Linked DNA regions of Homo sapiens. The protein of the gene in region 1 interacts with the protein of each later gene in a pairwise test. Each region holds a gene or a part of one and is shown on either strand. Other genes may lie near its edges. The genes, in order: OTP, EOMES, SLC12A7 and BEX1.

The links.
Region 2: the proteins of OTP (region 1) and EOMES interact in binary tests that used the Homo sapiens proteins (3 or more experiments, as listed by UniProt).
Region 3: the proteins of OTP (region 1) and SLC12A7 interact in binary tests that used the Homo sapiens proteins (3 or more experiments, as listed by UniProt).
Region 4: the proteins of OTP (region 1) and BEX1 interact in binary tests that used the Homo sapiens proteins (3 or more experiments, as listed by UniProt).

Annotation. Positions count from the first base shown.
Region 1 is NC_000005.10:77,627,185-77,636,327, reverse strand, and holds the end of OTP (homeobox protein orthopedia), read left to right. Parts: intron 1-1,867; exon of another isoform or gene 1,868-3,605; intron 3,606-5,533; coding exon 5,534-6,064; 3' UTR 6,065-7,616; downstream 7,617-9,143. UniProt on the Homo sapiens protein: Probably involved in the differentiation of hypothalamic neuroendocrine cells.
Region 2 is NC_000003.12:27,718,354-27,727,792, reverse strand, and holds the start of EOMES (eomesodermin homolog), read left to right. Parts: upstream 1-5,469; 5' UTR 5,470-5,498; coding exon 5,499-6,379; intron 6,380-7,467; coding exon 7,468-7,622; intron 7,623-8,311; coding exon 8,312-8,433; intron 8,434-8,899; coding exon 8,900-9,058; intron 9,059-9,144; coding exon 9,145-9,206; intron 9,207-9,439. UniProt on the Homo sapiens protein: Functions as a transcriptional activator playing a crucial role during development. Functions in trophoblast differentiation and later in gastrulation, regulating both mesoderm delamination and endoderm specification.
Region 3 is NC_000005.10:1,049,884-1,055,206, reverse strand, and holds the end of SLC12A7 (solute carrier family 12 member 7), read left to right. Parts: intron 1-1,724; coding exon 1,725-1,858; intron 1,859-2,755; coding exon 2,756-2,847; 3' UTR 2,848-4,823; downstream 4,824-5,323. UniProt on the Homo sapiens protein: Mediates electroneutral potassium-chloride cotransport when activated by cell swelling. May mediate K(+) uptake into Deiters' cells in the cochlea and contribute to K(+) recycling in the inner ear.
Region 4 is NC_000023.11:103,060,630-103,068,996, reverse strand, and holds BEX1 (protein BEX1), read left to right. Parts: upstream 1-4,825; 5' UTR 4,826-4,901; intron 4,902-5,265; 5' UTR 5,266-5,355; intron 5,356-5,717; 5' UTR 5,718-5,722; coding exon 5,723-6,100; 3' UTR 6,101-6,346; downstream 6,347-8,367.

The DNA.
Region 1 (9,143 bases):
GGCGTGGCTTTATTACCTTAAGTATCACCCTCCCTCTGCACTCAGGCGAAATATTCCTAGCTTTGATGTTTGCAAGGGGTTTGAACTTTCGTAGTCTACCAGTGCGCTGGGGGCAGCTGACGAGATTCCCAAAGCCGGTGAGCCCCGTTTTGTTTTGGAGTCCTCTAAGGAAGCTACGGTGGGGGAGGGGAAATGAAGGCTTTCTGTTGTGGATATCATGTCTGAAGAAGGGGCATTCAGAACGGGAAAGGTTGACAGGCAGTAGAGGAAATCATTGCTGACCCCTTATTCTCCTCCAACCACTCTCCAAGCTGTAAATTATATATAACCTAGAAAATCACACCTATAATTATTCTGAAAATTGGTGAATAAAAGTATAAGCCTAGTGAATCCCAGATTTTTGTTTGTTTTTTTTTTTTGTTTTTTAAAAGAAAGAATGAAGACATATCAAATATTTTATGGACAGGTGCCTGGAGGTGAAATTCCAAGCGCCGGTACTCACTCTTGAGCTATCCAGGGTGCTGAAAAATCTTCCTTTGCCGTCTTGGACGGTGGTATTTTCTGTACGATATCCTGGGTGTCATCAACCTGGTCAATTTGTTAAACCAGTGCTACCTACTTTTATAAAATTAACTTTAAGATCTTAGTTACTTTACATTTGATCTAAGAAGTAAGCAATGAGAACGTCCGTAATCACAGCGTTGAATGTTTCTGTCTCCATTCGGCATTTTAAAGATAGTCTAAACTGAAAAGATAGCGCATGCTTCTGCTCTAATAGCAAATGAATATTATTGGGGATTTAAAATGGTCAAATTAATAAAGTAATGTTGATTAACATAATGATTAGCATTTTTATACAATATAAGTCTGGGTGGTTTTCCTAGTGAAAGGCCTAGACCATGGTCTTTTAAAACGACACACCAAAAGAGTACTAATTGTGTAACTGTAAACATGTGTTAGTAATGCTCTTCAAAATTTTTATTTTTCACCTTTTAAAAAATATCTGAAGTTGAGTTTAAACCTTTACATAAATATACAATTTCAATACTTCCATCAACACTGATGACAGTGCTTGCTTGTAGGTTCAATTTTGCAGGTTAGAAATTCATAAATTTTGGGGTTTTGTCCTTTAAGAGAAAGATTATCTATTAATTCTGTATTTAAAGGGTAAAATGCTGTGTCTTAACCTAGATATACTGGCAATTAGTTTAAATTAAAATAGAACTTAGAATCACAAATAAAATATAATTGAACAACTGATTTTATGAAAAAAGAAAACGAGGTCTATTAAACTTTATTAGGTCTTCCAAAGGTTAATGACAGTTATTCTTTTAACAGAAAAAGTTGTAAATGAAATAAAATATAAGCTATGTAACAGAAATAGTTATTTTCAAAAAGTACACAAAAGAATGCACAAGAAGAAAGAGACAAAGTACTCTAATTGTTCCAGCATAATGTTCAAGCAAAGATAATAGCTTGAGCCTGCTGATAGACACAATTTAATAGAATGGCAATTTCAATATTTTTAAAAATAATGTTCCATAGTTTAAAAAGTAATCAGATCAACATAACCTTCTTAATTAACTTTTCAAAATGATTAACATTATGTAATGTAATGCAAAAATAATTTATGGAAAATGTATTTACTTCACAATTCACTGTACCATTGCTCCTTGACCAAATTCAAATTAAATAGTAATTGGCTTATGTTCTTATATGATCAATACTTCATAGTTTTCTTTATAGTTAACAGACTGCCACACATTCTTTTCAGTATGTGGGCCACTGCGCTGATTAAAAATTATCTAAACATTTAATTCATTGCAATTGTATATTTTTAAAGATGCTTTTTGATTCTAGACTAAATTATCCAATATACTTATTTTTTATCTTTATTTGGTATATATCACACTTTTAAGTATTTATTAAAGCATCTCTACTCACATGGAGGCCAATTCCATGTCTGATATAGCTCCTCTTTTCTGGCCAGTGTAATAAAACCATTCCTTTTATAGCATGCCATTATTAGAAACCAATTTCAGAATTATTTATAACCTGGAATGGCTTATTAAGCAGCAATGTGAGAATCATGCAAATTATGTGATCAAATGCAATATAATAAGCATAATCATTAGTCTCTAGCATGGATTAATTAACTTTCAATATTTTATTTACATAAAAACCAAATCAGTAAAATAACTTCTGCACAGTCAGGCTTGCCTTTCAATATTTTATATGAACAAAAATAGTGTGCTGTAATTCCATTGACCGTGTCCCCCAGAATGGCCCTGTCACCTGCCACATCTTAATAGGGGGACAAACTGAGAGTATTTTCTAGTTTTCTAATGGAATGAGAAATTGCATTTTCTTCCTCTCCCAGCACTATTAAACTGTAATGAATTCGGCCCAGAGTTCACGGCTGGCTGATCGAAATGAACCTGAGATCTAGGCTTTAATACAGCTCCCCAGATTTCCTCCAAAATCTTCACATTAATCATTTGCTGGATTCCAATGAGATCTTCATAAAGCATTTGCTTCAAGGGGGGAAAAAGTAATATTCTCTCTTTCTCTCCCTCTTTTTTCTATTTCTCAGTCATTTATAGCTGGGGAATTAAACGGGCTATATATTTTAAAATACATTTACAGTATGTCTATATTACTGTAACAGCAGATATCATGAAAGTGGATTTTTAGATTCCAACCTCCATTAGATTCTCACTGTTGTATTAAGCATTTTCCAAGAAGAGCTGCATTTCAAACTGAGTACAAAGTTGGCCCGTGGCTGGGGTTAATATATTTCCTGGAGTTGTCATCTGTGCATTCTAAAAATCTCCCTTAGGTTTTGCCTGCATTTTAATCCGTCATGCTCTAGTTTTCAAGTGGAAACATTCACATTTAAAAAACATATGCATCGTAGCTTGGAACGGAGGTGCTCAGACCCCACGCAGATTTTTTTTCCCAATCCCAGTAAGCCATGAAACATAAAAAAATTTGTAGCCATCATTTGACTACTAACCCTCAAACATAATTGAGCACGATTTTCCGATTATTTCTATAATATTTAGTTCTTTAACAGCTGTTCTTTTCCGCCTGTGCCTGAGCAGATCCTAGATTCAGAAACCATTCTGGTAGTCACATTTTCTATTGAAATTCTACTGGGCAATCCTCCCCCTCTTTCTTTTTTCTGCTCCTTCCCTCACACTCCCTCTCCTCAAACAAACATTTCGGGATTCACTGGCACTTGCAGGTTGTTAGGAACCGGTCTTGATTTTATAAGACACCTTTCAAAACATAATCCCGGTGCGGCGTGTAAGGTGTGGGAACCGTTTAGTCACAGACACCGTCCCGTCTACCTCCCCCGAGTCCAGCCTTGGGTGGGTGCTGCACAGCGACTTTCGGCCTTAGGTCTTCTCGCTGTGCCTTCCTTTCCTCCTGAGAGATGCTCTCCGCCTAAGACCGCTAACAGCTCAATTGGGTCTCATTGATCCCACTCACCATCTAGAGCCCTGTTGCCTCATTAATCCGTTGTGCCACCAGCTCACGGGCTGCAACTGGGAAGAGACGAGACCTGTTTATCCATCGCCGACACTGGGATACGCAGCAATCTGCAAAATGGGGTAGAAACCACAGGAAGAAAGTGGTAGGCGACGGCGCAGGCACGGTAGAAAGGCGAGGGCCGGCCCCAAGCTGGGGGAGTATTCTAGACTGCAACACCGTTCACACTGGTAAGCGTAGAGTGCGTCTACGCTTGCCTGGGCATGAACACACCGCTGAACATTGCTGGCTCACCGAGACCGAGGGCAGGTATGTCCATACCCCTGATACTTTAGCTTGCAGAGTAAACACTAAATAGGTTAGATTAACGGATGCACAACGTTTTTTTCCACGGATATCGTGGTCAAATTGCGTTGGCCAAATTCTAAGAGGAAACTCAGTACCTGGGCTTGTCCTACATCATTTATATTTAGGCACAGTAAACGCCAGATGACCAGATTTTAAACTGCAAGTCTTCCAGGCAGGCTTGCTGGCAAATTATTATTATTATTATTGTCATTTAAAAAGATCACATTCAAATAGGGGGAGATGGGAGTTATCTTGGATTGGCAGCTTATGTGATATCTTTCAGGCAGAACTCTTCTTCTGTGATAGAGGGTTTGACATGCCTAGGCAAATTTGCCTGACAGGGTCTGTAACTCCCGGGCCACTGTTAAAAAAAAAAAAAATAGGAAGGCTGTTTTCATTTGGAGTGTATTTTATCAAACTCATTTCCCTGAAAAAGGACGTTTGGGTTTGTCTGAGCAAAATTAAATTTGATTCATATATCTCGTAGTGAAATGTGACCTCCTTTAATTCATATTGGTCCGAAAATTTGCTTTTAGTTTATAAATGAAATGGGGGCGACTTGAGGGAACTGGAGGCCTTGTTACTTGGGACCCTTGGTAAGTTCCTGAAAGGAATAGACTTTGGCTTGGCGCGGTGGCTCACGTCTGTAATCCTAGCACTTTGGGAGGCCGAGGCGGGTGGATCACGAGGTCAGGAGTTCAAGACCAGCCTGGCCAACATGGTGAAACCCCGTCTCCACTAAAAGTACAAAAATTATCTGGGCATGGTGGCGCGTTTCTGTAATCCTAGCTACTCGGGAGGCTGAGGCAGGAGAATTGCTTCAGCCGGGACCCGGGAAGCGGAGGTTGCAGTGAGCCGAGATCGTGCCACTGCACTCCAACCTGGGCTACAGAGCAAGACTCCGTCTCAAAAAAAAAAAAAAAAAAAAAAAAAGAATAGGGTTGAAGGCTCTTGGGGCAGCAGGTTCCAGCCACTCGTACAGCCCAGACAAAGGTGTCCATAGAGTGGTTTGGGAATGAGGCACGGAGAGTTGTGGCAGTAGCACGAAGCAATATGGGAGGAATCGGAAGTCATGGTGGTGACCCAAACAACACTGTAGCTCAGTGGCGTTCACTTTCCCACGCAGATCACTGTATTAACCTCTCCGCTCTGTCAACCGTAGCGTTAGGGGTTTTCCTTTGTCTTTCGATTTTGAAACTATGTCATCCACAGCCTGTCATCAATTTCCAAATTTCCAGCGTTTCTGAAAATTCTATAGCACATCAGTGTTATAAGGCATGCTATTAAGCTACATGGGTACACGTTTATCTTCATTTGTACACCTGTGGGTCGAACTTTGACACATGCCTGACTGCAGACCTGTGAATCTGTGCAGTGCACAGAATGTGCAGGGGCGTGGTGAAGACTGCACACATTTGGTGTGTTTGCACAGTGCGTAAACTCTTCGGGGCACGAGCTCTTAGGAGCGCAGGACTCCGCGCTTGGTGGGTGCAGGGGGCGCCAGTTGCCAGGAGTTGGTGGGGAGCCACAGTCTCCGGCTGGGTATGGGGGCTTGTCGGGCCTACGGCACTTGTTCCTCCCAGGGCAGAGCGGCTGTATCCGAGGCGGGTTTCTGGGGCTCAAGCCCCAACTCCCCAGCCGCCGGGCCGGCTAATAGCTCCCTGTCTGTCTCCCGCCCCGCCCGCTCCAGGTCTGGTTCCAGAACCGACGCGCCAAGTGGAAGAAGCGCAAAAAGACGACCAACGTGTTCCGTGCGCCCGGCACACTGCTGCCCACGCCAGGCCTGCCTCAGTTCCCGTCGGCTGCCGCCGCCGCTGCCGCCGCCATGGGCGACAGCCTGTGCTCTTTCCACGCCAACGACACCCGCTGGGCGGCGGCCGCCATGCCTGGCGTGTCACAGCTGCCTCTGCCGCCGGCGCTGGGCAGGCAGCAGGCCATGGCGCAGTCGCTGTCCCAGTGCAGCCTGGCGGCCGGTCCGCCGCCCAACTCCATGGGCCTGTCCAACAGCCTGGCGGGTTCCAACGGCGCGGGGCTGCAGTCGCACCTCTACCAGCCCGCCTTCCCCGGCATGGTGCCCGCCTCCCTCCCCGGCCCCAGCAACGTCTCCGGTTCGCCCCAGCTCTGCAGCTCCCCGGACAGCAGCGACGTGTGGCGGGGCACCAGCATCGCCTCCCTCCGCCGCAAGGCGCTAGAGCACACAGTCTCTATGAGCTTCACTTAATGCAGCCGCGCCCCGGCCCGCTCCGCCCCCAGCACCGCCCCGGGGGCCGCCCCGAGGCCCTTCCGGCGCGCACCCGGACCCCGGCGCCCTGCCCCGTCCCGCCCCGGCCTTCGCCCCGTCTCGTTTCGTCCTCGCCTCTCTCCTCCACTCGCTCGGGCTCACCCCAAGCCCCAGCCCGCGAGGCCTCCCCTCCGCCTGATTTCGATCGCCCGCGGTCCCCCGTCTCCCGGCCGCCCCTCTTCCCTTCCCACCCAGCTGCGCCCTCGGCTCGGTCTCCAGCGCCTCAGCCCACCCTTCCCGCCACCCTGGCCTCCCTGCTTGCGCTGGCCGTGCTCGCGCCCTCCTCCTGGCCTTCTGACGGGCGGCGTTCCCACCCACACCTTCGACGCGACGCCTACGACCCCCCTCGCCCGCCGCCTCCCCTCCGGTCCCCTCTTTCCCCACACTTCGCGACCCTCCTCCCGCGCCCGGCAAAAAGTATCCTTCCCGCCATTTTACGTACCAGGGAGTCGACTCAGGATCTGAAATCAGACACCAATGGACTGGTTTGTGGGCAGAAACACACACACTCGCACTCTCGCTCACGCTCAGACGCTACACACGCGCGCGCACAGACACGGTGCACCTAGGTCACACACGGACGTGTTCAAGGGACAGCACAATGTTAGGGATTTTTGTCTTAAAGGAGGACAAGCATTGCTACCAACCGCCTCATCTGAGGGCCCAACTGATATGATTTGATTTATCCTTGTACTCTCCAAGCTCCTGTCTTTCTTTCCTCTCCCACCACGCTACCCTTGCCCAGTCCACCCAGTCACATCCGTGCAGCCCTCTCTTGGCTTGCAAGATAACGCTTTTATTTTTATTTTATCTTATTTTCATTTTCTTAAGCACAACTGTGTGAGAGTGTAGAAGGGAAGGCTTCTCAGGAGGAACGTGACAGTGGATTGGGTGGCTGGAGTAGACTAAAGCAGTCATGTGACGAGGAAGAGGTGATCTGACCCATTTTGATAAGTCTTTATAAGGAAGAATAAAATAAACGTGTAAGCAAAATTTTCTTTTGTAAAAGCAAAAGCCACATCTCTTTTCTGGATCCTTCAGGACTGGGGTTTGTTTGCTTCCTTTTCTGTTTCTGTCTTCTCGCTGCTCTGTGCCCTTGGTTGTTTTGTGGTGGTCCTGTCGTCCCTCGTGCCCCTCGGCCACCTGCTGGCAGCCGATGGGGGCACTCGGACATCTACAACCCTGCAACTTTGTACAGAGAAACACAATCAGCTCTTTCTGCATGTGCTGGTCAAATCCAAACCCAGAGAACAGAAGCGCTTTCTAAGAATGAACAAATATGTGAAATAGGATGTTTTGTGTAGATAAAGCATTCTTGTTACATACTGGTCAATTTGTGATATGTTTTAACTTAATGTCTGTGTTTATTTATGGAATTCGGTTTTCTTAATAAATGTTTGAGCTAATATAAAGCATATTATTTGACTTTTCCGGACAAGTTTATATCAAGTTAAATGTAAATGGATAAAATAAAATCATTTTCAGTATGTGATATAGAGAATGATGGGTTTTGGTGTGACCTTGAACGGCGGGAGGGGTCTCGTGGGGGGAGGGGAGGGGCCGGTCTTGGGAATGGTTATATTCGCGCCAGTTGGAACGCGTGGGCCCTTCGCCCTGCAGTGGGCTTGGGTTCGGTTTCTGGGCTGCAAGGTGAGGTCTCCGCGACGGGGCGGCATGCTGGGGCGCCGCGAGCGCCTCACGCAAGCTCTGAGCCTCCCGAGGTTTCCGGGCCAACCCAGGTTTCCCAGGTGGGACTCCGAGCGTCGCTGTCGGCACGAAACGCAGGGCGCGAGAGTTCCTCAGATGAACGGTGTCCCTGGGGCAGTGGCGCGGAGGGCGCCCCTCGCGGGCTGCGTGCGCGTGATGGGGAGGCCGTGGGTGGGAGGGGACCACAATTCGCACCCTCGGCCTTCAGAGCCTGGAGTTCTGCTCTCCGGCGCCGCCCCAGCCGTGTCTGGCCCCAGGTACGCGGTGGAAGCTAGGCCGCGGCTCTTGCCTCCTCCGGGGCCTAGGCCTCTTTGGGGCCTTCCCTAAGGCCACGGCGCCCCTTCATGTCCCCAGACCCGGGATCCGCTTCAGATACCCGGGACCTCCCAAGTAAGGGACAAACGCGCTTCTCCAGAAGAGGCGTGTCCGGGACGACCAGCACCTACCAGGGCTCCCCCAACCCCGGGGCTGCTCTGGTTTCCTGTCAGGGTCCCTGCTGGCTGCGTACTAACCTCGACTTCAGGCACGTGCTCAGGGGACTGCCCCAAAGGAGTAGGAAAAAAATGCCGTTTCTTCGGTCGGCCGAGGGGAAGGTTTGCGGTGTGTTTTAAACTTGGAGGCAAATCGATATCACAGGCTTCCTTGGGAAGGCTAACCGAAATCAATCTTGTGGTTTGAAATTTAATGGTCATTATAGGCATTGAGAGGGCACCCCTTTTCCCACGGGAAGACTTCTCATTTGGTTGCCTCAGAGTGTAAACCCTAAAAAATACCCTCCTGCTAAAATACAATACAGCTGGGCTACATGTGAATTTGAGGAGCTGTTGTAATCGTTACTCAACTAAGAGAACACAATGGAATCTCCTCAGAGATGAGAACAAAAAGCTATGATTTTTAATGATAAAGTAAATCTGTTCATGTTACCTTAGGAATTTTAATTAGAGGTAAACTGGTGGGTGGGTTCACAGAATATTTCAGTTATACACTTTCCTAAAGACTATTTTTAGTACATTAAAATATTAAAGAAGAGAAAACATGCTCATTTTGAATTTCATACAAGAACGGAACATTTCTGTATTTGAGAACTCATCCAAGAATTCAGCAGCACACAACCACCAAATTTCTAAAATATGAGTTAATGAAAAATACTTTTCCTTGTTTTTGCATTTCATCATATTCTCGCTTGTTTTATGTTAGTGCTTTTTTTTAAAAAAAATTGAAATCGTGGATACTGTAATCTCAAGTCACATTTAAGAGATCAGTACAAATTACGGATTGCTTCACCAGTGCTCATGGAATGTTGTTTACAAGG
Region 2 (9,439 bases), on another chromosome or scaffold:
TCATAGACTCTGTCAACTCTGTTAGTAAAGTACAATTGATTTACATTCAGATTAACATTTCTCCTTGGTGACATGGTGTTTGCTTCCCTTAGCAGCTGTACTACAATTCCAGCACTAACTTCTTTTTTTCTATTTTGCTATGGAAGAAGCTTAGCATGGACATACAGACAAAGGCCATGCCACAATGTAAGAACCTTGAGATAGAAAAGGTCTTAAAAATGATATATTTTAAAGTCTGAAAAAGATGAAAATATCATGTCTTTTAATTTAGAAAGATCTTTGTTTTCTTTTTCTCTTAGGAAAAAACTTTAGTCCTTGTGGTTATAAAGCCTAAGACCTGACACTGTCCCTGACCTCTGTTAGCTGTTCCAGCACACAGGTTTAGTAAATCTTTTCATTTAATTGATAAGCACCTACTGTGCTCCAGGCTTTTCAGGGTAGAAAAATGAGCAAGATAGATGGAGCCCCGTATAACTTTCGTATATAGTGTAGCAACAATTAGCCAAACGTTCCCAAAATACACTTTCTTGAGAGTGTTTTACTTTCTTTGCCTAATGTGGCTTTTCTTGTTATTATATATTCCCATATACATGATGAGGAAGAAGAAAAAGATGATGATAATGATGATGATAAAACAGCAGCTAAATACAGAAATTCATTAGCAGTTTAAAAATTACTTTCATAAAAAAGGTAAGTCATGATTTTGTGCTGTTGCCAAAGACTCTTGATTCAATCTTTAGGAGAAGATAATTTATCTTTTGTAATAAGCAACTATTAGTGTGTTTATTTATTAACTTCCATTTCAGGATTCCTTCACCTCCTCATATTTTAACAGTGAACCACAAAGTGCATTAGCAATGTAGATATATAGACTTAAAGCAAAGATAATAGTTTAAATTGGTCATTTTTGTTGAAAAAAATACCATGGGTTTAATATAACACTTCACGTCACACATGTGTAGCTCTGGTTTGGGGTTTTTTTGTTTTGTTTTGTTTTTGTTTTTTTGTAAAGCAAGTGGTCAGTGTATTTCAGTGTCATGGTGAAATATAAATTCTAAAAATTCTTATAAAAGTGAAACTTTTGGTGGGAGTATCTTGCTCTTGTCAGCAGAATCAACACTGCTTGTCTTTGCCAAGATGTTTTATCTTACGGGACATTTGCTTAAAAAAAAATGAAACATGAACAACCTAACGGTGATTAAAGCTCCCTCCCTCTTTGGAAAGCACAGCAGAGGTGGCAGATCTGGCCATCAGAGAACAAAGGGCCAAAGAGTGAACCTGAGTTGGTGAAATAAAATGTAACATCAACAAAGAAAGGGCCATAGATAAATAGTAAAAGGACCAACTCACCACAAAAAACCCATTGACGCTTTCCCAGAGTCCAGGCGAAGCGCTGGTGACCGGTTAATGTTGGAATGTTTTCCTAGGGTTAAAAGGAGAACCGGCAGCAAGTCTGCTCAGAATTTACAAAGTGTTTGAATAACATGGACAGTGTTTTGATAACACGTTTTTAGTGGGGGTGAAAATAATAGTATTTATTGGGACATTTATATGGGCCCCCTTGGTTGTGGGGGGTGGGTGGCACATGGGGAGAGGTAAACCTTATATCATTGCACTCATCTATAACTCACCTCTGTAACATACCCATATGTGTGTAAATGTATTTCTTATATAATAATCCTGTTCCAACCAAATGCTTCTCAGTTTTGCTTTTAAAAGATCAATGCATGGCTAGTGGTTACCTTTAAGGGGGAGAAAGAGATAAAGAGGTCATCTGGTCAAGTTGGCAATAACTTTGACCAAGACAGTGGTATGAAGTTGGTATTATTCCTCAGAACAATAGAGCGTGAGATCTTTAATGTGTTCACACACAGACTTGGCCTTGGCTTCCTGGTAGCCTTTAAAGATTCCTGCTTGCTCCATCTCAGGCTGAAAGGTACAAGATTTGAGTTAATCCAGCAGGTATTTGGGTCTGGGGTTTCAAGGGGTTTCCATGTTTCCTCCCCAGTGTTGATGTTTTTGTTCAATGTATTCCAATACACTGTCAGTTGAGCCACATAAAACCAGGCACCTTTCAATAAATGTCTCATTTGGATTTCATGAAGCTTGGGGTGTAATTGAAATCAAACAGCAAACAGGCTGGAAGGCTCTGTTATTTGCCCACCCAGTCTAAGGAGGGTGCTGCCTGACATGTTCACTTAAGCCACTGCTTTGGCTTTCTTTTCTATTCCTACTTCTGGAAAGGAGTGCCTGGATTTTAAAGTGTGGCTGGGACACGTGAAAATATTTTTTATGTCTCTTCCCCTGGCTATAATATTGAGCCAGCAAAAGGAAAGCCCATTTCAAGCAGGAAATCACAGACTTGCTCATCTATAACTCTCCAGGCATTCTAGACTAGTATATTCTAAATGTAATAATAATAATAATAATGTGATTAGCTAATTAACACAGAGGAACCATTAAATGAGATTTTTTATCTTCAGCCAGAAAAAAAAAGATCTGTAGCTGAAACAGTGCTTTTCATTATTTTAAAGAGAATTTGTAACATATACTTACAAATGTAATGTAATACAATATGTAATATAATATTATGTACATATTTTCCATGTTCCAAAAATCCTGGGTCCTAGAGTAGTTTTATAGAAACTGAATTTTTATTCTCTTTGAATTTGTCTTTGCTCCTCCATATGTAAAATGTGTTGAAGTTTGGGAAAAATAATAGATTTACTGGGGAAGTGGGTAGATATCAACCAAAATTTCCTGTCCCCAAGAATCAATACAAATTCTAATTATATACATCGTGTGTATATTTAATAATTAGGTGGTGCTCATACTGAACTCATGCGCTTTCAAAAGCTTGCTCTGGGGCTGGAATAAAATCAACGCTTTCTGATGTGGCTCGGGGGACAGCTGGCCCGCGTTATTCGCGCCAGAGTGGGTCGGAACGATGCCTGTTGCCTGCGATGGCACTTTGCCACGCGAAGCGCTTCCCTGGCTGCGTCAAAAGCATTTTGAAGGGACGCCGAGGCCCGCTTCTTGCTTTGTTAAAGCGCAAAACTGTCATGTACCTTTGGCCACCCTAGCTCCAAATAACGTGAGATTAGGTCTCACATTAGGGAGATTTCTCATCCCTACTTTTGCCTTAGATATCTTGCAACTCAGGTAAAGGATAATGTGGAGGATCCTACGAATAGTAATCAGGACCCGCTAGCCCAGGGATAGATACGTCGTCCAAGCCGCCCAAGCTGCACGGCCTCTTTCTTTCCTTGAGCTCGCGTACCCCTCACGGGATCTTCACGTTGACAGTCATGAGGTATTCACAGAGCTATACTACTTGAACAATCAATGTTCTAGACTTCCTTGGGTCAAAATAACACTAAAGCAGGGGAGGAAGGCATGGACAATGTAGTGATCAAAACAGCCGTGCCAAACACTAACTATACTGATGACACAAAACGCAGGAAGCGCAGGGCAGAACGCGCTCAGTACCAGCTTTCTGGCGATCTGCTCCTGGCCACTCTGTCCCAGGACCTACAAGGCCACCGCCCCAGCCCACTAGTCTCAACTTGCCCCCTCCCCTGTGGCTGTGCCTTGACCCTGAAAATCTTCGCGCACTCCTGGGTTTCACCACCACACACACGCGAGCGCGCGAGCGCGCGAACACACACATCAAAAAAGAAAAAAAAAACCGTGATAAATGCCCTGGAGAGTCTAAGTGCATTAAGGACCTCGTTCTCGGAGACCCCAGACATGCCGATGTTGGTGCTGCTGTGGTTGGAAAACTGGGTTGGAAAGCTTCGCACTGTTCTACACTTGCGTGTGCGCACTCAGCAATCCTTTGGCCATCTCATCTGTTGTGGGCGAAGAGTTTCCCGTGTGATCGCGTTCGGTTGGGGAAGCAGAGTCCCGACATCTCAGCCGGAAAATGCGCTCCCGGAGCGATTACTGGCGGCGTCTGTAATTGCTTATTAACAGCGAATATTCAGGCTTCTCCTTATCCGCAACGAAACGTGCCCCCCGCTTCCGTAATAATGAAACGATAAAATATGACGGCCCCGCTCTTGAATCTATCTGAGGAAACGCAGCGAAGAAACAAGCAGCTGGAGTTTAATTCAATATCAAACTGATTATTTCACTAATTATTCTACCTTCTGTATTTGCCGCAGAGCAGAGGCGCAGGGAATCCTAACTGTGGGGCTGTTAGGGAAGCTTTGTTTCTTGGTGTCAGGCCTAACTGAAGATGGTGGTGAAGGGACGGAATCCGGGATCAGGAAAACTGAGCAGAAAGGATTTTAAATTGTGGGGAATAAAAGTGACTGTCTCCCCGAAAGCAGTTGTGTTGGCGTGAGTATGAAGTTGGTGTTAGCTCGCTTAGTTTCACTCTTGTCCTGTCCCCAGTACCCTGTCCAAGCTTCTGATTTAGAAGCTGAGAGCTTAGGTCCTCCAGGATGGCAATGTGCTCTGGCCGTCCCCGGAATCCCAAAAGCTTAGCGCGAGTTTCCTCTCTACAAACCTTTCCCACTGGGTAAAAGGATGGGAACAAACAAAAAGTGGTTCTGTGCGTTGAAGGCCAGGGAGTTTGCCTTCGACAAGAGGAAGGTGTGCTTTGAAGTTACAGCTTCCGACGAGGAAAGAGACTTCCTTGGGCCTGTCTCCAACTTGCCCCAGTTTCCCCAGCCTCCGGGACGGGCGCTTCCCTGCAAGCTATCAGCTTGAAGAGTCTTTCTCTCTCTGGCCTCTAAAATCTGCTCCAGCCATCTCATTCCTCCAGCGGAGGGCTGAGATGACTAATGCGCCAAGGGTGGACACCGCTATGGAGACCCCAAACTTTGTCCCCCTAAATTCCGGCGAAATTACAGACACCAGGATTGATTATCACAGCGGGACGCAGTCTCAAAAAAAAAAAAAAAAAAAAAAAAAAAAAAAGGAAAAGAAAGTCACAGGCGACTTGATCCAATTAGTAAATGCCTAATTGAATTAGTGTCACCTCCACCAGCCAATAGGAGGGTCTCCGGGCTGTGAGGCCGGGAAGCCCCTCCCTGGCCGCAAATATATAAAGCAGCTAGTGACAGCCCATAAGTTTCCAAGTGGTCAACTTGACCGATGCTTTGGCAATTGAAAAAGGGCAGAAAGGCGCGGGCTAGTGGGTGGATGGGGACAAAGATCTAAGTCACCTTCTTCCAGCGTGTGAGCCTGGGAGGAGGGTGGGGGTCCTGAGGAGCAAGAGGTACGAGGAAGGAAAAGGAGAGGGCTTCTGGGTTAGTTTCCACCTCCTGCTTTCCAACTCACGGCGCTTTCCTTCCGGAAAGGACGCTGGATTCAGGGCGCGCCAGTACGCGCAGTAGCGGCCCGCGAGTCGGCAGGTGGGTAGCCCCGGCGCGGGAGGAAGGGGAAGTTACCTTCCCCTCGGAAGAGGGCGCTGGCTCCCCCATCCTGCCTTTATAATAAGGCCACCGGAGGAGAGGAAGCAGCCAGCTGCCGTCTGCGCTTTGCAAAGCATGCAGTTAGGGGAGCAGCTCTTGGTGAGCTCAGTGAACCTGCCTGGCGCGCACTTCTACCCGCTGGAGAGTGCGCGAGGCGGCAGCGGCGGGAGCGCTGGCCACCTCCCCAGCGCGGCCCCCTCTCCTCAGAAGTTGGACTTAGACAAAGCGTCCAAGAAGTTTTCCGGCAGTCTCTCCTGCGAGGCGGTGAGCGGGGAGCCCGCAGCCGCCAGCGCAGGGGCCCCCGCGGCCATGCTTAGTGACACCGACGCCGGGGACGCATTTGCCAGCGCTGCGGCAGTGGCCAAGCCGGGGCCCCCGGACGGCCGCAAGGGCTCCCCCTGCGGGGAGGAGGAGCTGCCCTCCGCCGCTGCAGCCGCCGCCGCCGCCGCCGCCGCGGCTGCGGCCACTGCGCGCTACTCCATGGACAGCCTGAGCTCCGAGCGGTACTACCTCCAGTCCCCCGGTCCTCAGGGGTCGGAGCTGGCTGCGCCCTGCTCACTCTTCCCGTACCAGGCGGCGGCTGGGGCGCCCCACGGACCTGTGTACCCGGCTCCTAACGGGGCGCGCTACCCCTACGGCTCCATGCTGCCCCCCGGCGGCTTCCCCGCGGCTGTGTGCCCACCCGGGAGGGCGCAGTTCGGCCCAGGAGCCGGTGCGGGCAGTGGCGCGGGCGGTAGCAGCGGCGGGGGCGGCGGCCCGGGCACCTATCAGTACAGCCAGGGGGCTCCGCTCTACGGGCCGTACCCTGGAGCCGCAGCGGCGGGATCTTGCGGAGGACTGGGGGGCCTGGGGGTTCCAGGTTCTGGCTTCCGTGCCCACGTCTACCTGTGCAACCGGCCTCTGTGGCTCAAATTCCACCGCCACCAAACTGAGATGATCATTACGAAACAGGGCAGGTGAGCGCAGCGTGGAGGGGCCCCTGGGTTCGGGGATAAAGGGTGACGTGTGGTCCTGGGGAAGGTCCGGGATGAGGGAGCTGAACCCAGTTGTTCCGCGCGGTGCTTAGAGTGTTTCACCGCGCGCAATAAATCTCCGTAGACACCGCATCTCCAATGCGGTGTCCCTCTGTGTCAGTGCCCCGGCGGCTCTTGCAGGGTGCCAATGTTACGGCTGTACACCGCTTTTCCCTCCCATCATCCTCACCTGAACAGACCTGGAGGAGGCGGAAATGGAAATTAGGGCATGTCCACAAGCTGGATTCGTTAGATCCTCCTGCTCGGCGGTATGCTTGTGCATGCCTGCATGCCGGCAAGGAGCCACGGATAGGGAAGGCTCAAGAGCTGGCCACCTGAGCGCAGTAGATGGGCTCCCGCAGTTTTAGGCGCCAGGGTCTCCACGGGGCGTCTCCGGGAGGTGGGCATGAAGGCTAGAGCGCCGGCCTCGGAAGCTCGGTCGGAGTAGGTGGTTAGATCTGCCCTGGAGCCAGACCTGGCTCGGGTTCGGTGCGCGAGAAAGTTCTGATATACATCCAACTGCTAACACTGGCTACTTCTGGGGAAAGGGAGGGGTGGGTGCTGAGAGAGGGGCACTCAAAGGGGACTTTTAGCCTAAAGTTTTAATATATATTTTTAACAAGAATAACCTAATATTGTTCTCTGGTACTTTTCAAAATGGTGCATTTAAAAATTAGTAGTTTTTAACATTCTAGGAGAAAAATTTTAAGAGCGTCTGAAAGGGCCGAGAATATGAGCCTTCGGAAGCACGCGCGAATTTGGAATATACCGATGTTGGGGCAAGCTTTTTTTTTTTTTTTTTTTTTTTTTTTTTTTTTTTTTTTTGAAAAGACGGAAAGGTTCCAAGAGTTGCCAACTCAAAAATATTTTACATAGTTTCAGACCACTTGATCTACCAGCATTCTGTTCACTGCAAACTTTTAAATGTGTTCCGACCCTATCCCAGGTGTCTGGGGAACCCGCTGGGGCCTGGGCCTGTTCTAGGACATCCCAATTAAAATCGATTTTTCTGATTCTATTCCCTTGCACAGGCGCATGTTTCCTTTCTTGAGCTTCAACATAAACGGACTCAATCCCACTGCCCACTACAATGTGTTCGTAGAGGTGGTGCTGGCGGACCCCAACCACTGGCGCTTCCAGGGGGGCAAATGGGTGACCTGTGGCAAAGCCGACAATAACATGCAGGGTGAGCAGAGAAGAGGCTCGGGCCGGGGAGGAACGGGCGGGAAGAAATCGTAACCCTCGACTCACACAACTCACATTTAAATGTAGCACTTTTTTTTTCCCCTTCCATTCTGAGGCCTAGAGGTGTTAGTATGAGTGTCTTTGAGTTGCTTGTTTGACGGAGAGGAGAGTTTGCTAAGTCAGATTTCTTGTCTGCCAATATGTAGATATTTAGAACCTTTAACTAAGACATCACCCCACCCCCCAATCCCTACGTTTAACAAATCAGTAGTCATAAGCTCTCCAGGTGGGAAGGGCTCCTGGGATTCTAATGTTCACTTGAGAAAGCCCAGCCAAAGTTTAGTTCACCCATAAATATCCAACTGTCTTCCATCGGATGTTGCCCTTACAGCTTTAGAAGGCCCCAAATTGACCTTCAAGAGTCATCTCTTGTTAGCTCCGTTTCTAAATTCTGAAATGCCATTCAGGGGAGTCCCTAGTGCAAGGAAGGTTGGAAGCACAGGGGCCTGGGAGGGATATGGATGTAGTCCTGCTGGTCTCCACTGGCCTCTTTAAGCAACTTTTACTGGGAGACCAACTGTAAGTCTAGCTCTTATATCTTGCTCATAGCTAAGAGACATCCCTCCGCTTTCTCCATTTGTAAACAGCCCTATATGCTTGGGTTTTGTGTTTTGTTTCATTTTCTCTTAGGCAACAAAATGTATGTTCACCCAGAGTCTCCTAATACTGGTTCCCACTGGATGAGACAGGAGATTTCATTCGGGAAATTAAAACTCACCAATAACAAAGGCGCAAATAACAACAACACCCAGGTAGAGTGACAGAGCAGGAGGGGATATCTTCTGGCTTTGACTATAAGGCTTTTTTCTAATAAGAGTCCCTACTCTTTTCACTGTATTTATAATATTTGCATTTGTGACCTGTTTGCTCGCCTATTTCTAACCATTTTTGTTCTTTTGACCTTTCTCATCTTCACTTTCTTATTGGATTTCGATAACAGTGAGTTGACTATTAAGAACAGAAATAGCGAAGTATTTTGGGAATTTAGGAAACCAAGAGGAAAGCATATCTATCACAACCACATACCCAGCTATGATTTAAATTTCAAAAAAAAAGGGGGGGGGCAATAATGAGACCTTTAAACTTGCAATAAACAAAGCTGTTAGTGAGGAGCATTTAGAAGTCCAATACCAAAATACATAATTTGTCAAAATCTAATTTTGTTGAACCACTAAGAGGCTTTTTAGATTTAGCAATTTTTTTCTGTACTCTTTCCAGATGATAGTCTTACAATCCTTACACAAATACCAACCCCGACTGCATATTGTTGAAGTTACAGAGGATGGCGTGGAGGACTTGAATGAGCCCTCAAAGACCCAGACTTTTACCTTCTCAGAAACGCAATTCATTGCAGTGACTGCCTACCAAAACACCGATGTGAGTGTCCCAGACATCTCAAGAATCTCTAAAGCTAAGGTCCAGCATGATAAATCACTCAATGACTGTTTTTCTCCCCTATCTAGATTACTCAACTAAAGATTGATCATAACCCCTTTGCAAAAGGCTTCAGAGACAACTATGATTCGTAAGTGCAGCTTTTATCCACACTTGCCTGATCATCTCTGAGCAGGACATACATCAACAGGCACTTTGCTGATAATGTATTTTAGGAAGAGCTTTTACCTTTGGGATTTTTACATATTTTTCTTTTTCCAAAATTTTTTCCTTTACTAATCTTGCTTTAGATTTTTCTCAGAAAGGTTGTGTTAATTTCTGAAGAAATGTTAAGGACTTAAAAATGAAGAGGTTTTTTTAGCA
Region 3 (5,323 bases), about 77 Mb from region 1:
TGCACTTGTGTATTAGTGTGACTATGCCTGTGTGTGTACACATCAGTGTGTCTGCATGTATGTGTGTGTGCGTATACACATTAGTGTGCGTGTCTGTGCCTGTGTCTGCACTGGTCCTCCTTGCTGTGGCGGCCGGCATACTCCACCAGTAGCCAAGGGCCAGGTCTCCGCCTCACCCCAGCACTCACTGGCTGTGGACACGCTGCCCACTCCGACCCCCCTGTGCTCCTGGCCTGCTTTCACTTCCTGGAGCTGCTCTTTGTCCCCAAACACACTGGTAATTGTGGTCTATCCAGAAGTCGAATTCAAAGTTCCAAGTTCCTGGCACGAAAGCCCCTTGACTGTGCTGTGGACAGAGACCCCATCTGTAATTAGACCAGGCTGGAGAGAAGATAGAAGGTCTCTCCCTGTGTTCCTCCTGGAAATTGGTGGTTATGATCACGTTTATGTGGCTTAAGCGTCAAGCGGATCAAAGGGCGTGAGCCTGGATAGCGTCCGTGGGGCCTCTCCATGACCCTGCATGGGCGGCCTCTGTCTGTCCGCCGCCGCCCCTCTGCGTCCAGGGCGCTGGTGACCTCCCCCAGGGGGCCACAGTCACGACCGCACGGCTGCAGCTGGCCTGAGACCCGCTCCGACTTTCAAGTCCACACACGGGCCGGGTTTTTCCAACACAGAAACGCAAGTGCTCCCCTCCGCCCAGCGTTTCCCCAGGTGGCCTCCTGGAACGCCAGTTCTGCTGCAGTTTAGGGGCCTGCCTAGGAGGGGACCGTGGGGTAGAGGAGGGAGATAAGCTCTGTCCCGCAAGGGCCTGAGCACCTCACAGCATGATTCTGCAGTGTCCCCAAACCTACTTGGTTGGGGAGCCTCCTGTGGGGCTGTGGCCGGGCCCAGGCCGCCAGGGACGCTTTGAGACATGGACCGGCCACAGCAGCTTCAGAGAGCAGACAGGGAGGGTCGTGGAGCAGAGCTGCGTTGTGAGGACGGAAGGCGGGGGCTGGACGGCCACACGGTGGAAGTGCTTGTCCTTTAGCCCTTGGCCAGACAGGGGCAGGGTGGGCCGTAGGAGGGGACCCAGTAGTGGCCACTGAGGGCCTGTGCCTCCAGCTGAGTCCTCGGCATACCCTGTCCTTGTCAGGCCTGGGAGCTTCAGCAGCAACGGCTGCACAGGCCGGTGTGGGGGACTCTGGGCCTTTCCTTCCTGAGCTTCCGGCCCCTTGGACCCAGTTGTATCAGGACCCTCGGAGAGGAGGCCATGTGTGCCCAGCCTGACGGGTCTGTGTTTGGCAGTGTCTGACGTGGGGTTTAGGGGCGATGATGTAGATGTCAAGAGAAGCGTGTCAGCCTTGAAGGCGTCAGGCACATGGGCCACCCAGACGGCTTCCACTGTTCTGCCTGCTTTGCAGATGTAGATGTAGTTAGGAAAGCGCTTGCGGTTTGTGTTGTGTGACTGTAGCCCTTAGAAGCTTGGCAGCCTTAGTGGGCTGAGTTCTAGGTCCCTGGAGGCCAAAGCATCCCGCTGCTGAACGCCCGCCCTGGCTGCAGTCAGCGCCTTTCGCTCGGAGCCGCCACTTCTGCATCCTTCAGGGTCAGAGAATCCGCCTGATCCTGACTCACACAGCCCTTTCCAACACGTGTGAATGCAGCTCATCAGGGCTCAGCTCAGCCTCGTGTCCGGAGCGTGGGGTGCACCCGCCGCCCGCTGACCGTGCCCACCTCCCCTGCAGGGACCAGTCCAACGTCAGGCGGATGCACACGGCTGTGAAGCTCAATGGCGTCGTCCTCAACAAGTCCCAGGATGCGCAGCTGGTCCTGCTCAACATGCCAGGTCCTCCCAAAAACCGGCAGGGAGACGAGAACTGTATCCTTTCTTGCAGTGTGCCTGCTGAGCGTGCGGGCACCCCCTGGTGGCTTCTCGCTAAGACCTGGGTTTGTGGGTGCTGGGAGTGAGGCTGGCTTCCCGCCTCTCCTTCAGCCCCAGGCTCTGGGAGCTACGACCGGGATGCAGTGGGGCTCTGAGCCCAGTGGTGACCGGGCCAGAGTTGGGGCCAGCCCTGGCATTGGTGTGGGGGAGGGAGGGCCCGCCTACAGTACCAGCCCCACTGTCCCCAGGTGCTCAGGGCTGCCCTGGGGCTGGGAGGCTCCCTGTCATGCATCCCCACAGCAGCTGTGCATTCTGGGACCTCCGCTGGGGCTCAGCCCCACCCTGCGCCGACAACGGTGGGAGGTGAGGAGCCCAGCTCTCGGCTTTAAGGCCACAATTGGTCGCAGCTTTGGGAATTTGTGCTTTGGAAGGAGAACTCCGCAGTGCATCTGGGCGTATTGGCACAGACAGGGTGACGCCTGGCACATCCCTGCCAGGTTGGCACCAAGAACTGGGGCCAGTGAGGGCATGTCCTCCATGCGTCCTGATCGGAATCCGTGGCCCAGGTCCCCTGTAGGCTGGTGAGGACCCAGTCCCGTGGCTGGGGTTCCCTGTCGGGTGGGGTCAGCACCGTGGGCTGTGTCGCTGTCTCTGCTCGTCCTCCCTGTGGCCACGGTGCTCCCTCTCTTTCCCGAGCACTGGCCCCTCTCTCCCCTGCCCTGCTCCTCCCCGCCTGGGGGGTCTCTCTAATCCCCACCTCTCTTTTCACCTTGGCTCTGGGTTTCTCAAACCAAATCTTAGCTAACCAGGAGAGGATAAACCTCACTCCTATCACGATTTCAGCTACACACGCTCAGGTAAGATCAGCTGTGGCCTTAACTCTGTTGACCACAGACATGGAGTTTCTTGAAGTCCTGACCGAGGGGCTGAACAGAGTCCTCCTGGTCAGGGGTGGCGGCCGGGAGGTGATCACCATCTACTCCTAATGCCCAACAGCATCACGGCACTCTGGGACAGGCACGGAGGACGGCGTGGGCAGCCTGGGCCTGGGCTTGGCCCAGGGAAACAGACGGCAGACACACCTGTCCCCCAGTGATGCCGCCCAAGCTGCCCATGGGGCTTCCTACGGAAGTTTCTAGGCCCGTCACCTAGGGCTCTCCTGTTCAGCCTTAACAGGCTCAGCAAATCAGGGCGTGGCTGGACGATTTCCTTGCATCTGAGGGCAGACGCTGCTACCGGAGTGACCTGGACGTGGCCAGATCTTCTCGCAGGTCACAAGAAGCCAGTGAGCCCTTGCCTTGGTTTCTGGAAGTTCTTTTCCTTGGCTGGATTTACCCAGTGGTTAGGTTGCATTTCTACCCCATCCAGAACATTCTTGGAAGAGCACCCGGAGCTGAAGCTGTCCCTGATGATGAAGGTGAAACGTCAGCCCTGGCCATGGCTCCGCTCAGGGCCCCGGTCACCTCCGAGTCACTCTGTTCCTTGACTGTCTTTGTGTTTCTGTACCTCAAGGCACTGAAGCTGGAGGACTCTGTCCATGCCCGTGTCACCCTCGTGTGGGAGCCTCTGGGCTCGGCAGGTCCACATTTCATGAGCTGAGGCGTGGGCCAGGGCCATCTGGAAAGGGAACTCGGCTTTTCCAGAACGTGGTGGATCATCTGTCGGGTGTGTGGTGAACACGTTCAGTTCATCAGGGCCTACGCTCCGGGAAGGGGCCCCCAGCTGTGGCTCTGCCATGCCGGGCTGTGTTTGCAGCTGTCCGAGTCTCCATCCACCTTTAGAAAACCAGCCACTTCTTTTCATAAGCACTGACAGGGCCCAGCCCACAGCCACAGGTGCGATCAGTGCCTCACGCAGGCAAATGCACTGAAACCCAGGGGCACACGCGCGCAGAGTGAACAGTGAGTTCCCCCGACAGCCCACGACAGCCAGGACTGCCCTCCCCACCCCACCCCACCCCAGGAGCACGGCACACAGTTCAGCCTCTGAGCTGGCTCACACGTGCCATCCCCACCCCGGTGCTCCAGGGAAGGAGGACACGGACCCGACGTGGGAGGTCCTCAGGCAGCAGTGGCGCCTGGTGTCAGGTCTGTCTGGCTGAGTCCCGGGCGTCCCCTGCCATGGCCTGTGCCTTGCATGGAGGCGGCGGTGGCACTGAAGAGATAGCTTTCAAGGGCCCAACACTTTGCACTTCGGCTGGCTGTGAGTTTCTGCTTTGTAGGTTGTGGTCACATTTGCAGGCTGCGGGCAGTGGCACCGACTTGGGCCTCCCTTTCTATGTGGCATATTTATTTATTTAAACACCCCAGGGAGTTACGTGGTAACAAGGTTGTCCATAAAGAGGTTGCTTCTATATACTAGAGGCCCCAGATGGCCAGGCCTTGGGCTACGTCTGGCTTGCATGGTCTCCCAAGGGAATCAGCCCCATCAACAAAGTTCAAATCGGGGCAGAGGCTGCACTTGTGCCCCCAGATGTTTCTGAGGAGCCAGACTAGGGCTGGCATTGCTGTAGAGTGACGGCTGCTGCCCAGAGCGTGTCCCAGACATCACAGCGGGGCTCAGCAGTTCCCACAGCCTCTGCCTGCCTTGGCTAAGCATGAGTTAAGCAGCAAAACGCTCCTCCATGTCTGGATGGGGCCGGCAGGTCCTGTGTCCCCTGCACCTGGAGGAGAGCAGGCTAGAGGCACAGCGGCCACATGGTGCTGGCTCTGAACGTTGGTTGGTGGCTGGAAAACAGCCCTGCTTCTGAGGGCCGCTCAGTTCTGCACACGAAACCACCTCCTGAGGGCTCAGCTCTGCCCCCGCCCTGGGCTGCAGCCTCTGCACGCAAGCACCAGGCATCCTTTGTGTTGTCAACTCCGTGTAACCAGTAACTACAGCCATTTACAATTGACTCCGTTTCCTTTTGTAGGTTTCCCTGTCTGTCTGTGTTAGTAGAAAAATAAAATCCTATGAAATCTGAGTACGTTGAAGAATCTCTTGAGTCTCATTCAGCATGAAAGACAGCTGGAGAAAATGTACTGGCCGCCCCTTTTCTAGCAGGAGCGTCAGGGCTGACCAGCCACAGCCAACTCAGGTGGCTGAAGAGTGACCATATGAATTGGACGAGGGCTTCCAAATCATGTCATCGGCTTGGAAATGACCTTACCCCAAACTTCCTAGTGCTGTGTGTTGAAGTGACCCAATCTCTGTATTTCTGAGACAGTCTCTGTTGCCTAGGCTGGAATGCAGTGGCGTCACCTCAGCTCACTGCAACCTCCGCCTCCCAGGTTCAAGCTATTTTCCTGCCTCAGCCTCCCGAATAGCTGGGATCACAGGCGTGTACCACCACGCCCAGCTAATTTTTGTATTTTAGTAGAGATGGGGTTTCACCATGTTGGCCAGGCTGGTCTCGAACTGACCTCAAGTGATCTGCCTGCCTCAGCCTCCTAAAGTGCTGGGATTACAGGTATGAGCCACCAT
Region 4 (8,367 bases), on another chromosome or scaffold:
AACAAAGGAGAGTGAGTCTGTTCTTTAAAGCTTTGAAGTCATGCATTGACTTCTCACTAGCTATGAAAGTATTAGATAGCACTAGCTATGAAAGTATTAGATAGCATCTTCTTCCAGTGGAAGGTTGTTTCATCTACACTGAACATTTGTCATTTAGCGTAGCCACCTTCACCAATTATCTTTGCTAAATCTTCTGGGTAACTTGCTGTAGCTTCTATATCAGCACTTGCTGTTTTACCTTGTGCTGTTACATTATGGAGATAATGTCTTCTCTCAAACTTCGTGAACCAGCCTCTGCTAGATTCAAACTTTTCTTCTGCACCTTCTTCACCTCTCTCAACCTTCACACAACTGAAGAGAGTTAACGCCTTGCTCTGCATTAGGCTTTGGCTTAAGGGAGTGTTGTGGCTGGTTTGATCTATTATTCAGACCACTAAAACTTTCTCCATATTAGCAATAAGGATGTTTTGCCTTTTTTTTGCCCAGGCTAGAGTGCACTGGCACTGTCCCGGCTCACTGCAACCTCCACCTCCCGGGTTCAAGCAATTCTCCTGCCTCAGCCTCCCGAGTAGCTAGGATTATAGGCACACACCACCACGCCTGGCTAATGTTTGTATTTTTAGTAGAGGCGGGGTTTCACCATGTTGGCAAGGCTAGTCTCAAACTCCTGACCTTGTGATCTGCCTACGTCGGCCTCCCAAAGTGCTGGAATTACAGGCGTGAGCCACCACACCTGTCCCTATTTTGGCTTTTGACATGCCTTCCTCACTACACTTAATAATTTCTAGCTTTTATTTTGGCTTTCGACATGCCTTCCTCACTACACTTAATAATTTCTCGCTTTTATTTTATTTATTTATTTTTTTGAGACGGAGTCTCATTCTGTCACCTGGGCTGGGGTACAGTGGCACAATCTCAGCTCACTGCAACCTCCACCTCCTGGGTTCAAGTGATTCTACTGCCTCAGCCTCCTGAGTAGCTAGGACTACAGGCACTCGCCACTACTCCCGGCTAATTTTTCTATTTTTTTATTAGGAACAGGGTTTTGCCATGTTGCCCAGGCTGGTCTCAAACTCCTGACCTCAAGTGATCTGCCCCGCTTGGCCTCCCAAAGTGTTGGGATTACAGGTGTGAGCCACCACGCCCGGCCAATGGAATTGTTTTGAGAGTCCAAAAGTAAAACTATGTGGCTAATCTCAAATGAATTTTGACAAGGGTTCCAAGACAATTCAGTGGAGAAATATAGTCTTTTCAACAAATGGTGCTTGGCCAACTGCATAGCCACATATAAAAGAATGAAGTTACACTCTTACCTCCCGCCTTATAAAAAACTAATTCAAACTGGGTCAAAGACCTAAATGGAAGAGCTAGAAGTATAAAACTCTTGGAGGAAAATATAGGGATAAATATTTGTGACCTTGGATTACAAAGGATTCTTAGATTCAAATGACTCTTGAATTCAAAAGATTCTTAGATATGACACCAATACCAGGAGCAGCAAAGAAAAAGGTAATCTAGACTTCATCAAAATTAAAAATTATTGTGTTTCCTTTTTTTGTTCTTTTGAGACAGAGTCTCGCTCTGTGGCTCAGGCTGGAGTGCAGTGGCACAATCTCGGCTCACTGCAACCTCCACCTCCCAAGTTCAAGCGATTCTCCTGCCTCAGCCTCCAGAGTAGCTGGGACTACAGGCAGGTGCTGCCACGCCTGGTTAATTTTTTGTATTTTTAGTAGAGATGGGGTTTCACCATGCTGGCCAGGCTGGTCTCAAACTCCTGACTTCAAGTGATTCGCCTGCCTTGGCCTCCCAAATTGCTGGAATTACAGGCATGAGCCACCGTGCCTGGCCAAACACCATTGTGTTTCAAAAGGCACCATTATGAAACTGATTAAAAAACCCACAGAATGGGCTAAAATATCTGCAGATCATATATGTAGTGAGGGATTTCTGTCTAGAATATATAAAAACTCTTGCAACTCAATAATAAAAAGAAAAATAACTCAAATAAAAAGTGCACAAAGATCTGAATAGACATTGATCCAAGGAGGATATACAAATGACCTATAAGCACATGAAAAGATGCACCACATTATTAGTCATCAAGGATATGCAAATCAAAACCACCATGATATACCACTTCACCCCCACTAAAATGGTTGGAATCAAAATTTCAGATAATAACAAATGTTGACAAGAATGTGGAGAAATCAAAACCGTCATATGCTACTGGTAGGAATGTAAAATATTCAGCCACTTTGGAACATAGTTTGGCAATTCCTCAAATGAGTAATCATATTGGAATCATAAAGCTTGAAAACATCATGCTAAATAAAAAATCCAATTTCCAAAGAATACATATTATACAATTTCATTCATATGAAATGTCAAAATAGGGAAATCTATAGACAGAAAACGTATTAGTAGTTGCTTTGGTATGAAGAGGATGGGGGAATAGGAGAGTGATAGCAAAAGAATAGGAGGTCGCTTTTTGAGGTGACGAAAATATCCTGAAGTTGACTGTGGTGATGGTTGCATGTATCTATGAATATGCTAAAAACCATTGAATTTTACACTTTAAATGGGCAATCTTATGGATTGCAAATTGTATCTCCATAAAGTTGTTTTTAAAAGATATAAATTGAGGCCAGGTGCGGTAGCTCACGCCTGTAATCCCAGCACTCAAGAGGCCGAGGTTGGCGGATCACCTAAAGTCAGGAGTTTGAGACAAGCGGGGCTAATATGGCTGAAATCCCGTCTCTACTAAAAATAAAAATAAAAATTAGCTGGGCATGGTGGTGTGCATCTGTAGTCCCAGCTACTCTGGAGGCTGAGGAAGGAATATCCCTTGAACCTGGGAGGCAGAGGTTGTAGTGAACCAAGATCACGCCACTGCACTCCAGCCTGGCTGACACAGTGAGTCTCCATCTAAAAAAAAAATATATATATACACACACACACACACACACACACACACACACACACACACACACACATATATAAATTGAGACTTAACCAGATTTGGTTATTATTTGAATATGAGGGACAATGTAGAGTGATTCAAGGATAATAGCCACATTTCTGGGTTGGTCAAGGGGTGAGTACTAAGGTAGAAAACAAAGGAAAATAAACATGTCTAAGGTGAGAAGAAGTGATGAGAGAGAGAGAGACCGAGAGAGAGAGGGAGAGAGACAGAGGAAGAAAAGAAGAAAAAGAAGAAGAAGAAGAAGAAGAGAGAAGAGAGAAGAAGGAAGAAGGAAGAAAGAAGAAGAAGAAAAAGAAGAAATAGTAGTATTAAGGGCTTCCACAGGCTTCTGAGTTGAGAAAGCCAAGTGTAGTAAGAATGGTCAGTGGAGAGTGTTCCCCAGGCCCTAGCATAAATGAAGAGGTATCAGAGTGGGTATGGACTGGCAGATAGTGACCCTGCAGCAAGACTAAGCTCTTCTGGGTGACCTGGAGGTGAGACAGTCAGGGTGAGGGTCTCGGTATGCTGCACTACAAAAGCCAGGTGAGAGATAGCAAAAATGTCCCAAAGAGACTTTTCCCCGGGGTGGGTGAAAAAGAGAAGAGAGCAGGCAGGTTTGAGAACTGCTCCCCACTCCTCCCACCTCCTCAATTACTTCTAGGCTTTTCTTGGAATCTCTCACCACAGAGCTGTAGAAAAGCCCTATTCTGGTTTCCAGAATGGGAAGAGACCTCCCAACTATGCTGAGAAGTGAGTCATTAGGTGGGAATTTGGGGAAGAAATAGAAGGAAGGAGCCAAAGTGATATATTAAGGTCACCACCTTGGTCACCTGTCCATCTATATTTTTGGAGTAAGCAACAGAATTAGGAGTCTGAACATAGGAATTAAGAAGCTCTCGAATATAACAGTGGAAGACCAGCACCTTCCCAACCTCTTGTCAGGGCAGGGATACTCTATCTCTGCGTCACTCAACCTGCCTTGGCCTCACAGCTCTTCCTTTTGCTTAAGTCTTCAAACCATCAACAGTGATAGCCACTAATTTTAGCAGGTGGCATTAGTTGTCAGCAAATGTTTTTTCATATTTAATGAATGTTTATTATAATAGAATAAAATAGAAATGTTTATTAATAAAACTTGAAATTTGTCCCAGAAGGATAAAAACGTAGATTATTTACATAAAATGGCCAAGATCTGACAACAGAACTGTTTCCTGAAGATTTACTTCACAGATTATTTTGAAAACACCAACTGTGTTCAGGAAAATTTTCTCTCCTTTTTTTCATAAAATTTTCAAACAAGTGAGAATGCTCTAAAAATGATGGTGTGGAGCCTAGAGAAAATGTTTTCTGTGTGCTATAGATGAACATAAACTATATATATATATTACTTTCCCAGGTTGAAGTGTTTCTTTCAAAAATAAAATTTGATTATTTTCAATTTTTTGAGGGATGCTGATTTTTAAAAAGGAAATAAAGAGAAATTATTAGGAAGCATATACACAGCCAGTGAGAAGAGGAAAGAAGAAAAGGCCAAGGCCAGAGGAAGGGGGTTTGGGGTGGGGGAAAGGAAGGGTACAGACCCTCCCAAATAACCGAAGATGGGTAAACTCCAACCGCAAAGCGATGATGCCACTTGTGGGCCCTCAGATTGGAGAGGACGGAGATGAGTGACGGGGCTGTGCGCACTGGGGCACCGCGCACAGACGGGAGGAGGGGGGTGTCTGTGTGTTCCAAAGGGGGGAGTACCAGTTAACTGGCCGCCGGCCCGTGGGGGTTGGTGAGAAGGAGGGTGAGCTTGGCGGTGACGCACGGCCCTCACGTGACCGGGAGCTGCAGAGCTACGCAGCCTTCGGTGCAGTCGTCACTCGTGTCTCGCTACCAGCTCCCCGCTGCCCTGCGCTCGGCGGGCTGGCATCCGGCCCGGGGGAAAGCGGACCAGGTAAGGGCCCCGGGGCCCGCGCGCCCTGGCTAGGCCAGCAGAGGCTCACCGACCCCCCCGACGAGCGCAGAACAGCGCAGGGGATCCCCGCCAGCTTTCTCCACACCCCAACATTCTTGGGAACATAGTGGTCCCCTGGGGTGGGGAAGCAGTGGCGGCTGGGGCTCCAGGGGCAGCAGAGCAACCAAGAGCGATGGAAAACCATTCCCGAGTCCTTGCAGGAAAACGGTGAACACCACGGGGGGCGAGGCGGCCGAGGGTGGGAGCGGGGGGCGGGAGACGCGGGGCGCTGGCAGTGAGGAGGGCCCTAGGCGGAGAAGGAGCTAGCGTTCCGCTGCAGCAGCCCCCCCTCCCCACACCCCAGCCCTTCTGCAGGTCTGCGGGGCCAAGTGTCCCGGCGGCGCACCTCGTGGCGAGAATCGGGAGAAGGAGGAGACTACAAGGATAGGCCCAGGTCAGTGCGAGGGACGGTGGTGGGGGCGGGTGCAGAGTCCAGTCTGAGGTCCCCTCCCAACTCCCCCATCTCCCGTCCTCCATTTTGGTGCCTGCCGAGATCTAGGGATGGATCTGTAGGGAAAATGGTGGGTTTGGGGGCAGGTAGGGGAAGACACGAGAGGTGGGGGGGGGGGCGGGCTCGAATGGGGGCCCCCTAGTGGGCGCACGAAACCTCTCTGGTGGGAAACGTGAAATTAAACAAAACAAAACATGTTGATAGCCATGACGCGGAATCCTGAAAAATGAGTAGCCGTGCCTCTGTCCTCGGTACTGAAGCGTTCACCAGCTGTTCAGCCCCTTCTCTCTCCTTTTGTCTCCTAGGAGTAATGGAGTCCAAAGAGAAACGAGCAGTAAACAGTCTCAGCATGGAAAATGCCAACCAAGAAAATGAAGAAAAGGAGCAAGTTGCTAATAAAGGGGAGCCCTTGGCCCTCCCTTTGGATGCTGGTGAATACTGTGTGCCTAGAGGAAATCGTAGGCGGTTCCGCGTTAGGCAGCCCATCCTGCAGTATAGATGGGATATGATGCATAGGCTTGGAGAACCACAGGCAAGGATGAGAGAAGAGAATATGGAAAGGATTGGGGAGGAGGTGAGACAGCTGATGGAAAAGCTGAGGGAAAAGCAGTTGAGTCATAGTCTGCGGGCAGTCAGCACTGACCCCCCTCACCATGACCATCATGATGAGTTTTGCCTTATGCCCTGAATCCTGATGGTTTCCCTAAAGTTATTACGGAAACAGACCCCTGCTTTCGAATTTACATGTTCATGATGTGCCCTTGTTGTAAACCTTTACCTGTCACTTGTTTACGTGGGTCTCCTATTACCAGCTTCTAATTGAATATTGTGTTTTTGAACCAGTCTGTAAGATTTTTGTTAGCAGAAGAATTTTACCTATTGCATGGAAAGATGCTCATTATAGTGAAGTTAATAAAGCACCTTTAAAAAGCAATCTCTATATTCTTTTTTTGTTAAAAATTTATATTGATTGTACTTAATACATGAAAAGAAAAGTACTGAAATTAAATATACCAAAGGATTAATATAGGGACTCATTCTATGAGATGGGTTAATGTATTTTTTATATTTTCTGTAATTTAAGAAAAATTGGAAACATTTTTAAATAACCTTTGAAGGCAGTAGAGTCACTTAATAAATACTTGCTGATCAGCACTACTCACAAAAGCAAAGACATGGAATCAACATAAATGTCCATCAGTGAGAGACTGGATAAAGTAAATATACATATACATCATGGAATATTATGCAGCCATAAAAATAAAGAAATCATGTCTGTTGTGGGAATATGGATAGAGCTGGAGGCTATTATCCTTAGCAAACTAATGCAGGAACAGAAAACCAAATACTGCATATTCTCATTTATAAGTGGGAGCTAAATGAAAACTCATGAACACAAAAAAGGGAACAACACACACTGGGATCTGTAGGGGTGGAGAGTGGGAGGGGGAAGAGGAACCTAAAAGATAACTATTGGGTGCTGGGCTTAATACCTGGGTAATGAAATAATCTGTGCAACAACCACCCCCCCACCTGCCCCCAGCCCATGACACAAGTTCACCTATGTAACAAACCTTCACATGTACCCTGGAACCTAAAAGTTTTCTTAAAAAAAGAAAAAAAAAATACTTGCTAATCAAATTTGGATCTCTTAGCCAGGTAAATAAACTCAGGAATTTGTATAAGTTGGGGGTGGCATTTCCTTCACATGACTGGAATGAGGTCATTTGTGTGAGACCTGTGTTTACCTGTTTTTTCTCCCATCCACACCTATTATGCAAGACTCTCATCCTCAGATTTTCCCTTCAGATGTTTAGCAGAGTGCTCAAAGGTAGGTCTCACTAGTCCAGCATAGTTCCTATTCTCAGGAATAAAATGTCTGTTGGTCATGCTGTGGTTTCTTCATGACGAGGCAGGCACTTAACCGAAGTAAAATTAATAATGACTGAGTCAGGAGCTCTGAGTTTTTGTCTCGGTTCAGTTTCTAAACAAGTAAATAACTTTGGATGTGTAACTTAGATTACTTGCCATTCCTAAAGGAACACTGGGTTCATTTAGTAATGTCACAGTGTTTCTAAAACTATGCTAATCTGCCACCTGTGTGAGAATCACCAGGGGATTTCTTGAAAATGTGGATTCATACAAAGTTCTTGGGTCCCAACATAGATCCCCTGAATGGGGCTTCAGAACTTTTGTTTTTAGCAAGCTTTCCTGGTGATTCTGATGCACATTAATGTCTAAATGGCTACTGGTATGTAAATATTTACTATGATGTCAATTTTTTTTTTTTTTCTGAGACGGAGTCTCGCTCTGTTGCACCTCTGCCTTCCGGGTTCACGCCATTCTCCTGCCTCAGCCTCCTGAGTAGCTGGGACTACAGGCACCCGCCACCACGCCCGGCTAATTTTTTGTATTTTTTAGTAGAGATGGTGTTTCACCGTGTTAGCCAGGATGGTCTGGATCTCCTGACCTTGTGATCTGCCCACCTCGGCCTCCCAAAGTGCTGGGATTACAGGCGTGAGCCACCGTGCCCAGCTGATATCAGTTCTTAAAAGCCATAATAACTTGCAGAATATAAAGGTGAATATCTGAATTCAGTTCAGGGAACCATTAAAATGTAAAGGATGAGATCATGAAAAAAGCATTAGATTTATTACATAACAATTTGAATTTTATTATCTTTTGTGGAATATTAGGTGATTTCTTCTGTACTCAACTGCATTTTTCTTAACATGGATTACGTTAAGAAGAAATACAAGCTAACAACAGATCCAGATCCAAAGAACTATTCAGTTAGCTTACAAATGCAATTGAAACACATAAAAATTCCCATTGACAGAACTGAGATATGTAAATTTCATGTTAGCCTTGGATAGAGTATTCATGCCTTGGTGTAATTATCCCTCCTATGGAGTGCAGGTAAAATAACTGTCTTAATCAATAGAATACAGCAAA